2 separate regions of the Homo sapiens genome follow, and region 1 is linked to region 2. The links come from fine-mapping of genetic effects on gene expression. Tissue or cell type: whole blood. Region 2 holds a variant in brackets; the other region holds the start of a gene. All regions are shown on one strand. Distances are from middle to middle.

Region 1 (8,178 bases), 42 kb before region 2:
CAATGAGGGAAGGAAGGAAGGGGTGGCTGGTATATCAACAGCAAGAGCTAATACACCATTGACACTTACCTGTGTCAGGAATGGTGTAAGCACTTGACATATCTCAGTTTCCATTAAAAAAAATCCTATAAGGAGGGGAGCACTATTAGCTCCATTTTAGAAGTGAAAAAAACTGAGTCATGGACAAGTTCAGTCCCTTGCCCAGATCGCAGAATTGGGATTTGGACCCCACGAGGCCAGCTCACAGCCAGCACTTGGCAGCTGAGCTGCACTGCCCGGTGGCGGGGGAGGTATAGTTACGTATCGCAGGCTGTGGGGATGGAGGCATTTGTTGTTCAGGAAGAGGTGCTGCCCCACTGAGGCAGCAGAAACCCACCACTGGGGAGCAGGCTGAGACTGGCATGTTCTCGGACCAGAGCTGAAGCCTCCCACATGGGTGGCATCATCCATGAGAGAAGGGTCCCTGCCCAAACTCATACCTCCTCAGACAGGTCACTGGATCAGGAAGTAGGCACATCTGAGGGCAGGCAAGAGGCTTGGCATGAAACACTCAGATGAATCAAGGGAGGAGAGGATCAAGCAACCTGCCTGGGCCCCCACTGTATGCAAAGCACAAAACCTGCTTAGCCCATTTAATCCTCACTTCTTCACTGTACTACAAGGAAACTGATGCTCAGAGAGGTAAACTAACCTGTGCCACTGCACACACCTGGTAGCTGGTACAGCTGGGATTCACACCCAAATGTGCCTCAGGCTTCCAAAGAAGAGGGATTTGTCAGACACTCCAGACTACCAGAATCCTGATTTCCCAGGCTTGTCTGTTTCACCCTACCCCTCCCAGACCCTGGTCATAGCTCTGAGGGAGATGACAGGGTGTGGGGAGTGACAGTGAGAACAGCAATGACCTGGCAGATGGGAGTTGCCAACCCCTGCCACTGTGAACAACCACTGAGTCTCAGTTTCCTTATCTTTAAAGTGGGAGTGCTGGATTTGAGATACTGTCTTCAGGTCCTTTTTGAGATTAATAACCTGAACTCCACTGCTACTTGTACTACCCCCTTTCTGTGAAAACAGAATGACACAAGAAGGCATCTCCATGCCTGGCTGCAGCAAGTAGATGGGCTCAGTGGGCAGGCTCACCCGTGTCGCAGCAGTGACCCTGCTGGCCTTGCTTCCTCAACTACAAGGCTTTGAGGATTGAGTTAATAGAGAAGCAAGGTCAAGTTTAAACCCACAGGAATACACAATACTTAGCACGATTATTTGTGCTCCCAGGGGAATCCCGTACATCAACACTTAATCTGGCCAGTGCTGGGCTCTGAGCTTGCACATATGACCTCATTTCATCTTCCCTTCAACTGCACAGGGGAGATATTGGCAAGCCTTGCCCATTTTATCGATGAATACACTCAAGTCCACCTAGCTTTAGTGATTTACCCAAGGTCATGTTCATGCCAGATGATTCTTAAATGGTTTAATTTAATAACGTTCCTCAAGAAATGGACCCCACATGGTGCAAGAAAGTTATGAGTGAGGATGGAGTTAGATCCAATTGGCCTGGAGCCCAGGGCCACTGACCTGGTGAGTCTGCTAAGTGGAGGAGGAGGGCATGGGGCCTCTTTGTGGCAGGTGCTCCCCAATCCATGGTTATGAGAGGCCACAGATGTTACCTTGAGTCACACAGCCAGTGACAGATCTGACCCCAGGCTGTCTAGCTCCACAGCTAGGCTTGTTTCCCTCTCCCTCAGGAGGGGAGCCTGTAGACTGCAGATTTTTCTCCTGTTGAATGGCCTCATCTTCTGCAGAGCTGCAGGAGACCCCCACCCACATTTTCTGGAACATTATTCTGCAACCAGGAGTAATCACCATGACAACCAGGGTCTTCTCACCACCCCTGTGGCCCTGGCTGCACCTCCTCTCTACCCAGGGCCTGCAAAGGTGGGCAGGCTGCTGAGGCAGGAGCCTGGAAGTGCTCTCAGAACAGGGCAGCATGGGCCTTTGCAAGTGCCCTCTGCCCAGCTCCATCCAAGGGGCTGAGGAAGTGGAAAGGTGGGACAGAGGCCGGAGATAGGCAGAGTGTTCCCACTGCCTAAGCCCCTGGGCCTTTCCTTAAACCCCTGTGGTCTGAACGCTTCATGCCAGTCCGTGGAAGTCCTCAATCCCGGGCAGCCAAGGCCCTTCTCAGTCCACTCTGCTTCCCTGGACACAGGAACCATAGCTGACGCCAGCTAGGGGCTCCTGCTTCCTGACAGGGCCCAGTGCCTGGAGCTTCTGCAGGGCTGCCTATGTTCACTGGCTGTGCCCTTCTCATTTGTAAAATGCCCACATAATTGACCCTATGACAGGGATACTCCCCTGGCCTATGTCCCCTCTTCCACTCTCTGTGCTTACAGCCTTGTGTATGGGGTAGTCTGTGTATGTCCAGCAATGTGGGAGCACCCCAGGGGCAGGACCTCTGTGCCACCTGCTGCCACTCTTGGTGCCCCACTGGAGGTTCAGGGCCTGGCATGGAGAGATCAGTGAATCATTAGTGAAAGAATGAATGAACCACTCACCCGTTGGCTAGAAGAGGAAAAGTAGAGGTGCACGGGTGGGGAGACAGAAAAGTGAGGAAGGTGGAGAATGAGGAGAAGGGGTCCTGGGGCACCCTCTACTTACCCAGCCTGGCCCTGAAGCTGCGGACCGTGTTGCCCCCTCCCGGCCGCGCGCCCTGCCGGCTGTACTTCTCATAGAGCCTGTGCATGTGGACAGCGACCATGTCCTGGGCGCTGGGGCCCAACGTGGCGGCCGCGTCCCCAGGGTGCCGCTGGAGATCCCTGTCCCCCTGCAGGCCGTCGGCGGCCGCGGGCAGTGCGGACCAGGCGGGGGCCCTGTGGCTGCCGGCCACATCCCGGAGCAACAGCAGAAACAACGGCAGCAGCAGCAGCAGCAGCTGGGGCCCGGGTCCCGGGCTGGTCCGAGCGGGGACATGAGCCATGGCGTGGTGAGGGCGGCAAAGGGCCGAAGTCCAGGAGGAGGAAGGCGAGCGCTGGCGCACCGGAGGCTGCGGACTGACCTCGCGGCAGTAGGGCGCGCGGGGAGAGCCCGGGCAGCAGGGCGCTGGATACCGAGGTCCGCGCGGGGCGAGGGGCTTAGCGGAGCAGGCACCCGGGCGCGCGGTCCGTGGGTACCGGCGGCCCGAGCCCCCGGCCAGCGGTCACAGCCGTCCGGAGCAGCGCAGAGCCGAGCCGAGCCCGAGTCGGCGCGCTGCCTTGGCGGACTCGCGCCGCGAAAGTTTGTAGCCCACTGCGCGCCCGGCCCGGCTGCTTCGAGGGGCGGGGCGGGGCGGCCGGCTGCGCCCTCGAGGGGACCCGGCTGCGCGCCCCGGACCTCTGGGGCTGCAGCTGACAGGGTCGTCCCTGGCCCGGCTGCCGTGTGCGTGCGCCCGTGTGTGGCAGCGTGCGCGCGCCGGGGTGTGCGCCCGCGAGTGTGGGGGGCGTGGGCGAGCGCGCTCCCCGCTCCCCAGCCGAGAGCCCGAGACCCAGCCCCGCAGCCGGCTCCTGTGTGTCGGCGCCGCAGCCTGCCCTGGCTGCGAGGGGGGCTGGGCGGCAGTTGGAGGGGGGCCTGCCTGCTGGGTTGCCCCTGCAATGGCATGCGATGGCTATGTGATTGCAAGATGACAGCTCCCCTGTGAGGACCAGAGAGGGGATATGTGTGCGCCCAGTTGCCTCGGAGTCAGCGTATGTCCAAAATGTGAGAGTGTGGGGAACAGAGATCCTCTCTGGGCTGACTCCGTAAAGAAAAGCCCTCACCCCAAAGCTCATGCCACCCAAGGGAACTGGAACAAGATCGTGATTAAAACTCAGAATTAGCTCATTAACCAGCCCTTTATTTGACGAGAGTAATTTCAGTTGTTGAAGAAACACATCAAAGGTCCTTATTAATCTTTGGACATGTGGCCTTCAGGATTGCAGGAATAAGACATGCTTTCAATTTGCCTTTAAAAACATTTCCAAAGCATCAGAGCAGGAAGAGAGAAAGCAGTGGCTTTCCTAAGAAGGATTCCCAGTGAAGTGAGGGTGTAGTGAGTCCCTGGCCCACTGCCCCTCAGCTTAACCCTGGGGCAGAAGGTCCTGATCTTTGTCTTGCCTCTAGCAGGATTTCTTCTCCATTGATAGAATTCAAGGGCTCTTATGAACTTGATGGGGAAAAAAATACATCTTTATTTTCATTAACTCTAACTGAAACTTAGCATTAACTAATGTTATAAATGCAAGCAACCAACCACAGTGGTATTAGTGACTTTGTCACCAATAGGCACCATCCACAGATATTTTCATATCACATGAGAGTGGTTGCGGATTCATCAAAGTATCATGTTTGCTCATTACCACTTCAGTTAGGCCTACTGCTAGTTAGTTAGCAAAAAGGAACATAGTTACTATGTTACAAAATTGTTTTTAAATATTTGTGATAACTCTATTCTAACGTAATTGTCTTCCTTTGTAACTCTGCATATTTTATTTTATGCATTTAAAAACATTCTTTTAAGAAGGGGTCCACTGGCTTCCCTAGACTTAGAAGGGGGCCCAAGACCCACCTAAAAAGTTTAAGGACCCTTGAGAGGGAAGGAAAGGACCACGTCAAGCCCATGTTCTTCCAGAAAGCTCCCAGATACAGTCTATGCTACATTTCAAAGGACTATTTGCAAACTTGTGAACAGGCTGTTCCCTTTACTTGGTAACTTTGGGCTCTGTGAGCCAAAATAGTTACTTTTCTTGGAGGGCTCACAATGCAATAATTGAAAAATTGCTGGAAAAGGCTTCTGTTGGTGTGTAAAACATGACCCATTTGTAATTTTTTAAAATCTTGCAGTGTCAAATTAGAGGCCATCCTATTAAGAGCTTCTGAACCTCAGACTTGTAGCTTTTGGAAAACCAGAGAAAAGCATTTTATTTGTTTTGAAAATTAGATCACAGTGTGTTCAACTTCCCATTAGGATAGCTCCCATTTGTTCTGAACCAGTTTTCAAAAATGGTTTGCCTGGAAGTGAGATGATCGGGTCTCAGCCTGGGACTTAGTGAATCTCTCCTTATAAATGATCCAGACCATCTTTCAGTGGTCCCTTCCCCCACTCCCACCCCCATTTCCCTCCTTCTCCATGTGCCCCTCACTTCCCCTCTGTCCCCCTCTCCCCTTCCCCCCCAGAATGCCTCTGACCTGCACCGGCTGGGGGTAACCTCTGCTCATGGGTAGTTTTGTGTCTGTTGGGGCCATACACAATCGAGGCCTGTTGAAAAGGAGGGTGAGTCCGCAGGAGGCCCGCACAAGCTGGGCTATTTGGAATCCGTGTCCATTAAAGCCTTCTGGCTCTCCTTAACTCATTCCCGCTCCATTCAAGCCAGCCTGAGGGTCAGGCTTTAGCCAGCACTAAAACCTGTAGGGTACAGATTCTCTGACATTGTTGGGAAAGAATTAAGGCATCAGCCAGGGATGGCTAATATTTCTTGCCTCATTTTATTGCTGAACAGCGGGACTGTAAAGCCTTGAACACGAGCACTGTGGCCCCCTTTCATGTAGCCGAGATGATGGGATAAAAATGTGTTTGGTGAAGCAATTCAGATTACCACTGGGTCACATCCTCGCTGGCTCTCAGCACGGCCCTTGAAACAGCATCACTATGACAAGAAACAATCTCTGTGCAATTTCAGCTCATGCAGAACAGTTTTTCTAGTGTGGAAATGAGGCTAATTGTGGAGCTTGCCCACGAGAATGTTTTGTTTTTAATAGCTCAGGCCGCAGCTCAGAATAAGAGTTGAGATGGCAGATTGTGGAGACAAGTCCTTGGATCTGTGATTTCTGACAGCTTCCTACAAAATTATCATGGTTCTGGGAGTTCCGTACACTGCAATTGCCAGGGGTGCTGAGGTCTTGAACTTGCTGATTGGAGTGAACAGTGTTCTCTCCAGACAGGTGAGAAGTAGTTTGGGGGCCCTCAGTCCTCTAGGCCTCCTTGCTGTGCACTCTGGGATAGCAGGGTTTTCTTCAGCTCAGAAAGTCATGAGCAAGGAGTGAAGAGACTCCATAGTTATGAAGCTCTGCACCCAAGTAAGGAAGTAAAACAAACCCTGGGTAGTTTTGAAAAGCAAGCTCATTTGGTTTCATCAAGAACCTCTCCCCAAATAAATGTTCCCAAGCGATTGTTTCATGATATCGTCCAGTTAATTTGTAGCAGAGCTAGTGTGTGATTTTAACTAGCTCTGTAACCCTGGGGCAGCCCCATTGCCTCTCTGGAATCCTAGGAGCCTCTTCTTTAAGTGAGAAGTCTGGCCTCCAGGCTCTGCTGTAGCTCCTGTACTCTCCCGCTGGTTCTGTGGCCCCATGTCAACATGTTCTTGGAAGTGAGGGTGCTCCCATGACCCTGTGGAGTCAATTGGGACTAGATTCATGTCCCTATTTTCACTGCTACTTAGCTGTGTGATGTTAAGCAAGTTACTTGCCTTCTCTGGACCTCAGTTTTTTCAACTCTAAGATGGGGACAAGAGCAGGATAGTATGAGGATTCTTGGCCAGATTTTAAAGTGACATGATACTAACTAAATTGCACTGATCATTCAGATTGGTCTTTTCATTTATTGTGTGTTTGAAAGAAGTTGTAGCACATTTAAAGTAGACCCAGACTGGCAGATTTGGTGAGAGTTTCAAGCCTGGCTGTTCCTTACTCTGCAGAGAAAATTCGTTTCTTAGTGCACAGTGCCAACAACTAAAAAAAAAAAAAAAAAAAGGAAAGAGAAAAGGAATGTTTCCTTGATGAGGAAGTCACAGACCTCTACCAAGGAACTGTTATGCTGTTATTGTCTGTGTCTGCGGGTTCTTGTCCAAAGATTGGGAGGAAGATTCACAGCTCTTCATCTAGATTTTCAAAGCTCCTGGCCCTTAAGGACAAAAGAAATGCAAGTGAGTCCCTATTCCGGTTGGGGCATGAGCTGTGGGGTGCTAGAGACAGGAACCCCAGGGCCTCCCCAGGCCGCGGGGCCAGAGTGTAATAAATCTGTGAAATAACAAGCACAAAGGACTTTATAATCAATGACAGATTTTATTTTTGCTCTGGCAAAATCCATCTGTGGAGTTAACATTTTACAGGGAAATAACTACCCACTTTGTGACTCCTCCTCAGCCCATATTCTCTTTCTTAAAGTTGGGAAAAGCTCAGAAAATCAAAGTCGGCTCCTCTGAGAACCGTGGCAAGCGAAAGCATGACTTCCCCTGGGCGGGGACCCAACTCTCCCGTTACTTCCTAGGGTGGTGGGGGCCATTCATTTCTGTTTTGCTAAAATACCCGTGACATGTGAATAAACTAGGATTACAGAACATTGTCTCGGTCAGTAATCTGAGCCGGCATGGCCTCTGGTTTGATGAAATATGGTGCTCTCTGAGCAAACATGGGAATTGGTATTACTTCTCTTTAAAGCTGAACAGTGGGGCTATTTAGAACTGATGCATGAATGCAGCACTGTGGGGAGTGACAATTTGAAGGGAACCGATTTGGGGGAGGAGGGCAGTGGTGTGTGTGTGTGTGTATGTGTGTGTGTGTGTGTGTGTGTGTGTGTGTGAGAGAGAGAGAGAGAGAGGGAGAGAGAGTTGGCCGGAGCCAGCCAGTTAAGAGGAGTCTATGGGAGAGGTGGCCAAGGGGACACTTTGAAAATTAGGACCCCTTTGTGGCTTCGCAGTCTCCTTATCACCCCCAAATAATCTTGCTCAAAACCTTTGACTACTCTCCTTCACAGGATGGATAAAGCCTTCTGTCCTTGTCCTGGCATTTAAGCCCTAACCATCTGGCCTCTCTGTCCTGGTGGAGTCTTTCTCCAGCCTCTGTTCCTATGCGTCCTCTCCTGTCCCAGAATTTAGAGCAGCTTCATTCCTTGGGTTCTCATCCCAGGCCCCTCCCCATGGCTTTAAGGTGGCTGTAGCTAATTCCCCTGTTGCCAGCACCCAGACATTCATGGCCTCAGCTGCCAGGACTTCTGTCTGCTGAGGGCTCACAGTGGAGCCCTTCCTCAGGAAGGCCGACAGGAGCGGCCTCACTCAAGTTATCTCACACTCCGGGGGCAGCCAAAGCCAGTGACTAGGTGCAGGGGCCTGGAAAACACTGTAGGGCCACCTGGCTCCGAGGCTGTCTATACCACTGTGTCATTTAGCT
Region 2 (8,178 bases):
GAATTTCTACAGAATATATTTGGAACCCAAGACACAAAGGTAGACAGAGCAGGAGCCAGGTCCTCCCCCACAGCCTTCTGAGCCCAGGCTGTCTCCTATGGCCAGTGCCTGCTGCTTTGCTTGGGAACAGTTGCTGATGGCATGTTGCTATCTCCCATGGGAACTGAGGTCAGCCTGGACCCTGTTCTACATACATTTGTCTTTTTGTCCTTTTCAAGTAGCACGGAGCTTTAACAGGTTTTGGTTTATTATGTGAGCCAAGTGCTTGGTGGCTTGGCCAGCGGTCCTCTATGCTGATGCCCAGAGAGACAGGATCTCTTTGCACATGGTGGGGGATTTCTAGAGCGAGATGGCTGGGGGGCAGGGTGGGGGTGGGGCGGGAGCGGGGTGCGGAGGCAGGCATTTGAACAGGTCCCCCTTTTGTTGTGATTTGTATTGCTAGTTTCTTTCCACTGGGTCTTGTGGTGTCTCTTGAGAGTGGCCGTGAGCCCAGACAGCCACTCTCTAGTGGAGCTCTGATGGGGGAAATTAGGTTCAGGTGTGTGTGTCAGGTTAGACACAGTGAAGAAGTGAAACCAGAATGCATGAAACAGGGAAAACATTTCACTCACAGGCCTCACAGCAGATGGTTGCACACTAGAGGCCTACAGGAAGTCAGGAGGTGGCAGGCAGCTTACCCAGTGGGTGAGGAAGAGAGAACACTTGTGGGACTCTGCTTTTATTAAGACTCATGGGCATTATCCTTAGGCTTTCCTTTGGGGTTGTGGACTGACTGGTTTAAAGAAAACACTCTTGAAGTGGGGACTTATTTTCCTGACTCTGGCATGACCATTTGGTGTTATTATGGTCAGGTATTGGATTTTGGGTCAGTGGGATGAGGAACAGCCACACGGGGAGAGGAAGTTCTGAGTCTAAAGGCGACTGGGTACAACTGAGTTCCAAACAGCTTATGTCAGGCATAAAAATGGATGCTGAGGCAGCGATTATATTAAACAAATTTATGACAATCTTGTTATTGAAGCTGCTGTTCCTTCTTTTCTACATCCTTCAAACCTTCACTAGAGACTATCTCTGTGAGACCCCAGCTGGGTCAAAGGTGCACAGCGATGGAGTGGCAGATCCCTGCTCTCAGCTACCATAGCATGGCCACAGGATGAGGAGAGAGGCAGACACACTCTGAAATCAGGACACGCGTCAGCAAGCATTGGCTTATCAGCAAACGACAGCAGACAAGAGCTCCTGGGGCTCTGGGGAAATGCTGCTGCCTGCTGGCCAAACGAACTGATGGATGGGCTCTTGGAGTGGGAGAGACTGGGCAGAAGCTGTGTGGGGTGGGTGACTCCCAACCTAAAGAACCCACTGAGACATATGTGGCTTCCCTCTTCCACCTTCATTGCCTCTTTCCGTCTAGATGCTGGCAAGGGGGGACTTGGTGGACAAAGAGAGCTACTATTCATTCAGGAGCTATGTTACACCAGTCACTTTACATGTGCCACTTGCTCTGGGTTAAACTGTGCCTCCCCTCACTCATATGTTGAAGTCCTAACCCTAACTACCTCAGAATGGGACGTTATTTGGAAATAGGGTCATTACAGGTCATTAAGGTAGGCTGATAATCCAATATGACTGGAGTCCTTATAAAAAGGGGAAATTTGGACACAGACAAACATAGAAGGAAAATAACATGTGAAGATAAAGGCAGAGATCCAGGTGAAGCTTCTACAAGCCTAGGAATACTAAACATTGAAATCAACCACCAGAAACTCAGAGAAAATCTTGGAACATATTCTCTCTCACAGCCCTCAGGAGGAACAAAACTTACCAGCACCTTAATCTCAAACTTCCAGCCCCCACAATTGTGCTACAATAAACGTCTGTTGTCTAAGCCACCCAGTTTGTGGTGCTGTCTTACAACAGCCCTGGGAAACAAATCCATTATTTCACTGAATCTGTAGAGCAGCTCCATGAAGAAGATAATATTGTGCCCATTTTATAGAGGAAGAAAACAAGGTTCAGGGAAGTGACTTTCCCAAAGTTATGGTTTGAAACCAAATCTGTCTCACACCCAAGCCCACTACATCCTCGTCTTCCAGCCGGGATTTGCCTTCAGCCTTGGTGTCAGCACTCAAGTGGGGGGCAGGCAGATTAGTCCCTCAGGAAAGCACTTGTTTCTTGGAAGTACAGTCTCCTGTAGGTTCTGAAAGGCAGGCTGATCCACTGGAAACAGGAGCCATGTATCACGTTTCAGAAATCCAGCTCCTAGACAAGCCCCCTCAACCCGTCCCCCTGAGCCCTGCCCAGAAAGCTCCCAGCATGGACAATGTGCATTTAGCTCAGGCCTCCTCCTGACGGAGCTATGCTCCTGCCTCAAAAGCCACCTCAGATGGAAGTCCCCTCTTGGATGACAGAAATGCCCACTGACACAGACATGCAAATGTTCCATTGGAGGTTCCTGAGTTTCACCCAGTCCTGTTATAGGCAGGCATATCTTTTCACCTGCTCTATGAAATGGAATGGAAAGTGGAGCCGAAAGGCAGTTGTATTGACCCTGCCTTTCATTCACTTTGGCTCCATAAATCAAAGAGCAGTCATGCAGTCAGGCCCCCAGTAATATTCCTTCAGGATGTGCCGCAGGCATGGTAGATTGTACTTACTGGGTCAAATAAATACCTTTTCATCTGTCCGTAATATAGGTAGCTATATTACTCTTTGCAGTGTTTCTCCTATTAACTTGATCTAGGCTCTGGAGTGATTTTCCTGAAGCCATGGGATGAAACCAGGCATGTTTCATGCCTCCTCCTGTCCTTCTTCAACTCCCCTAGCAGGAAGGCATAGGGCACAGCCCAAGGTCCAGCCTACACCAAGACTAGCTAGGACCCCCAGCAGGTTCACAAGGATTCAGGACAAACGAGAAACACTGCTACTAATTTACCATGAAAGGTGTATCCCATGGACTCCAATTCCTTTTTACTTTTAGTTTTGCTTAGAAACTGGAAAAGCAAAACATGCTGGTTTTACAATATTGCTTGTTACAGAGGTATATAAAGTCTAACTTGAACGTACCCACCTCCTTGCAATTCAAACAAATTTAAAAGAGAAATTGAATCATACCATATAGAGTGCTTTGCAATCACCTTTTCACTAAGGAATAAACCAGCCGGGCGAGGTGGTGCATACCTGTAATCCCAGAATTTTGGGAGGCCAAGGTGGGAGGATCGCTTGAGCCCAGGAGTTTGAGACCAGCCTGGGTAACATAGCAAGACCCCATCTCTACAAAAATTAGCTTGGCTGGGTGGACATGCCTGTGGTCCCAGCTACTGGGGAGGCTGAGGTGAGAGGATCACTTGAGCCCAGGAGGCAGAGTTTATAGTGAGCCGAGATCATGGCACTGCACTCCAGCCTGGGCACCAGAGTGAGATCCTAACTCAAAAAAAAAAAAAAAAAGAATAAACCAAACCAAGGAGCCTTTTAGATCAGTAAATATAGTTCCATTAAACACTTTTTACTTCCTCCTCAGTTTTCCATATTTTGTTTTGTTCCATATTTTGGTTATTTTGGAAGTAAATATTATCCCCTGTTGATACTATTTAGATTGCCTACACTTTGGGGCTGCTATAAATAAGTCAGCTATTAATATTTTCATGCTTTTGTGCAAGTATTTCTATTAAGATAAATACTGAGAAATAACATTTTTGAGTAGAGAAAACTCTCACCTCGAATGCTGGGAGATACCCTTCAATTCAGCTGAAAATGTCACCTCTTTGCATTGTCCAGTGCTTTGTAAGAGACCCCATTTTCCCACCCAGTCACACCTTGGATATTATGTATCATTTATGTATTTTTGTGCTAACCTAAAGGGAAAAATGGAATTTCATTTTTTCCATCTGAAGATTTGTGAGAATGAGCATCTTATTCTATGTTTACCAGCCTTCCTCTTTCTTCTGTGCTGTGACCCTTAAGAACTTGGC[G/C]CTTTCACTTTTCCTATTGAGTTGTTTCAAGTTTTGTGGTTAAATTAGTCAGTCTTCTGCTTTTAAAACAATATTTCTGGTTTCCTGCCTTGCTTACAAAATACTTCCTTTACTCAAGATTGGAAGACTCATTGTCCCAGAGTTCTTGGTTGTAAGCAATAGAAACTTACTTTATTAAACATAGGCAGCAAAGAGACTTAGAAGGATAACGGATGTCTTAGTAAGAGATTGTAGTGTTTAGAAGCAACCCTTGGACAAAAGGCCAGGATAGAGGGATGCCAGAGAGCCAAAAACAAGCCAAATGGTGCCACTGGAGACATTGCCCTGGACGCTTGCTGCCAAGAGGCTGTTCTGATTCTGCTGCTATTGTCTACACTAGACTCTGGGTGCTGGGTGCTGCCATCCTACCATCACCTCCACCACCTGCTCCTCCACCACCACCCCCATAACACCAGCACCTCCCGCCACTTCCCCTCCATCCCCTCCTCTGGCATCTCCACCATCACCATCACCATAACTAGAGTGAATTCTAAAGTATCCCCTGATTCTTTGCAGTATGAGTTTCAGATTCAGAATCCTCAGTGGGAGTCTTTAATTGTTCATACGCAAGCTTTCACTGTCAAGAGTCAAGGAGAAAAATCTAATATTTGTGTTCATTTGGGGGGAATTGGTATCCTAATAATATTAAGTCCTCCCATCTAGGAACATGGTATTGTTACCAAGCGATCAATGGGCTTGGTGTCCAATTCACATAGAGGCCAATGCCATGGCACCAGCTTTTGAGAAAAGAAAAACAGCAATAAAGCTGCTTAATGGGCAAGAAGGCAAGAGAAAACTCTCAAACCTGTCTCCTCGAGCAGGGGTTTGGGTCAGGCTTTATAAGCATAGGGTAATGAGGTGTGATCTGATTGGATCTTGCAATGAGGTGGTGCCAGGAGGCATGATCTTACTGGATCCTGCCATGGGGTGATACCAGAGCTTCCTCTGATTGGATCCTGGCTCCTGCCAGGCAGTGTCTGCTTCTCAGTTCAGTCCCAATTTCTCAGTCCCAGCCCTGAGGTTCCTCCTGTGGCTGTCCATTTGGTTCGCCTGAGCACGCTCAGATTACATCACCTTCAATCTGGGGGCCCATGGTAACCTGAAAACAACTCACAACTTGGTTTCATAAAAGTTGAACCACATAGGTGTGATGAAGTTACAGTAGGTGCTAAAATCTCCCACTGTGATTGTGAGACTGTCAAATTCTAGGTTTTGGAATTTCAACAATGTAGTCACAGTAAGTTTCGTTAATGAGATGCCAGTCTTACTTATTAGTAGGTGATGATGTTTTCTGTCTCATGTTTCTGATTTTCTCTTTATTCTTCATGTTTTAAAATGTTAGATGGTTTTATTTTTTCATTAATCCTAACAAGATATGTGAGTCACTTTAATCTGAAGTTCTTTCTCCTTGTCTTCTTACCCTACGTTCTGACAGATTTCCTTGACTTTATCTTTCAGTTCATTTACTGATGATCACTTTGAAGACAGGAATTGGTGGGTCACACTTATAATGTCTAAGAAGATGTATTGCCAGAAGATTCTTTAATGAATGTATACGTTTCCTGAATTTCTGAGAACAGCAATTAGAGTGCTTTAAAAGTTTTCCTTAGTTCATCGCGTCATCTAGGTGCTTCGTGCCTCTTCCCTCTGCCCTTCCCAGTCTTCACGGCTACATGCTGACTGGCTCTTCTGCCTGGTGCACCCTTGTTTGAGAACTGGGCTGGTTCTTCCAGATGGCTGCTACAGTGGGTTAGTTCCTGCAGTCCTCTTCTCCAGGAGGCTTCTGAGGGCTGAGCTGACTGCTTGGAGCTCTGGGTACCTGGGCTCATCCGCTGGCAGCCCTGCCTAGGGTGTGCAATGGACAGCTGGTCTTGAGGTGGAAGGCATGGCTGCTAAATCAGTAGTTGATGTCAGAAGGCAGGACAGTTCATGTTCACCTGCATCTCCTCCAGCCCCTCCAGCTGACCTGGGCTGTGCCTGGCTGCCAGAGGAAGGCCCCTTTTCCTGTATCCATTTGTTCAGAGGAGCTGACAAATGGCTTCCTCTGAGTTCCCAATTTCTGCTGGGATTTTCCATTCCATCCTCTGGCCTGTGCCAGTAGTAACATTTTACACTTGTCTGACACCTTTTCTCCTCTGAGCTCCAAGCACTTTACAAGCAAGCAGTTGCTATTATTGCCCTCTGAATTCTGATGGAAAAGCTGAGAGTCATGGGATCAAAGCCGCCATGATTGGGCAGTGAAGACAAGGCTCCCAGACACCAGGCCAGTCCCCGGCCCTTGGCAGGACCACATAGAGCACCCCAGCTGCTGAGGTGAGGTAGCCCAGGGGAGGGTTTTCAGCACGGGCTCCCTAGAGGCTCCCCAGAGCCGTCTTATCCTGTTGTAAAGTGATGCATTGTCCTTTACTGCAGAAGAGAGTGGGACCCTTGGGACTCTTCCCTGCCAGAAAAAGTGGGCTGATGGTTCGTGGTTTATTTTGGGAATGAGAAGACTCATTCAATCTGTAAAGGGTCCTCATCTTGTCTTGAGGAACAGGAAGCAGATCTGTATTACGTGGCCCAGGCAGCGGAATAAGGTTCAGTTGCTACAGGTTTTCACCAGTCAGAGGACTTGTTAGCACTGAGAGCTGCCCAAAGGGGAGTGCGTTTGCGTCCCTGGTTGGGTCCCGAGGCAAGTGTCTCTAGCTGCTGCTGGGGATGTCCTGCATCACATGATGCTAGGGAAGGGTGACACATGAGGCCTCTTCCAACCCAGATCTTGCATCATAAGGACACACTCTAGTGCTATCTCCTCTAAGTGGTGGTGGCCTTGGGGCTGAAACCCTGAAACCCTGGGTCATGTCACATCTTGCTGGATCTGCAAAGCTCCTTAGTTCCCATCTCCTCCTTCTTTCATTTAGCAAAACTCGGTTTGAGGTCTGCATTTTCCCTCTTTTGTACGAAGCTTTGCCCAGTAGCAGCTTACTGTTTAACTGGAAGGAACATCTGTGACCATGAAATTTTCAGCAACCTAAAAAGGCCCTGTTAAGTAATATTTGCTGAGCTAGTGTTGGGAGTCAGCAGTGTGTGTGTGTGTGTGTGTGTGTGTGTGTCTGTATGTCTGTGTGTGTGTGTGTCTGTGTGAATTCAGCTGCCCTCAGGCAGGTGGCTGGAAACTGGCTCACCTTTATCTGAGAACACATCAATCTTGGGAAGAGAATCCATGGAACTGAGTATGGAGGGACACCTGGCCAGAAAGAAACTGAGAACAAGTCATTCCTACCCCAGGGACCACAGAAGGAGGCAGACAGCTGGAGGAATGTGGTGTGTGTGCGTGTGTGTGTGTGTATTAGAGAGGGGTAGAGGACTATATTTTCTGGGCAGATAGAATTCTGAGCACATCTGTGTGTGTTAATGCTCACATGAAACCTTTCAAAGCTTGGAGAGATGGGTATTATGATTCTATTTTCCCAGTGAGGGATTAGAAGTCAAATAAGCTGCCCACGGCCCCAGCCCCGGCCAGAGCAGAGCTGGGATTTGAACCCAGTTAGTTGTCTTTGGCTCTGAAGCCCTTTCTCCTCTGTATCCCTGCCTGCCTTCAATGCAGGTGCCACAAATGAGGTCCCACGGACCCTGCTGACTGGCTCTGAGTCTTCCGGCTAGCCCGGCTGTCCCAGGCCCCAAGTGCTCTTTCCCAAGGGCTGGCTGCCTTGCAGGTCTCCAGAAGCCTCCGGGTCCACCCCCATGCCTCCCCAGATGCTCTAGAGAGCTCTGGGCCCAGGCCCAAGCCCAGCAGGGCAGCCCTGTGGTTTGCGATCTGGCCATGCATAGCTGGCTCTGAGCAGGCACTTATCATTCTTCCACGACCACCCAGTCAGTCTAACACAGCCTGGAAGTGCAGCTCTAGCTGCCCAGGCCGGTGGTGGCTCAGTCCTCACTGAGCCCTGCTGCTCCCACTCGCTGTCTGCCACCCCCGCTGTAGCCGGCCCCGCCTGCCCAGCTGAGCGAGAGGTCGCTGGAGCCCAGAAACAGCAGGGTCTGAGCATCCCTAGCAAACCACAAAGGGAGATTCACAAATCAAAAGGGCCCTAGAGAACAAAGCTGTCACATCAGTCCATCATGGAGTCGGATCTCAAAATATCGCCAGGCCAGAGTCCTGCCAGCTGTGAGTCACCACCCGGCCAGAGCAGCC

The links. PIP is the estimated chance that this variant, and not a neighbour inherited with it, causes the effect.
Region 1: it holds the start of GDF10, and the variant in region 2 is fine-mapped to the expression of GDF10 in whole blood (TOPMed, PIP above 0.99). The same link has a PIP of 0.9 or more in blood mononuclear cells.

The regions. Positions count from the first base shown.
Region 1 is chr10:47,295,451-47,303,628 of GRCh38, reverse strand. It overlaps GDF10 (growth differentiation factor 10), which reads right to left and starts at 3,432. Exons shown (of 3, transcript NM_004962.5): 1 at 2,659-3,432. The coding sequence starts at 2,977.
Region 2 is chr10:47,253,763-47,261,940 of GRCh38, reverse strand. No RefSeq gene overlaps it. Among named protein-coding and RNA genes, the nearest start is that of GDF10, 42 kb to the left of the region's middle. RefSeq lists a silencer at 357-406. The variant G/C (reference allele first, on the strand shown) is at 3,969.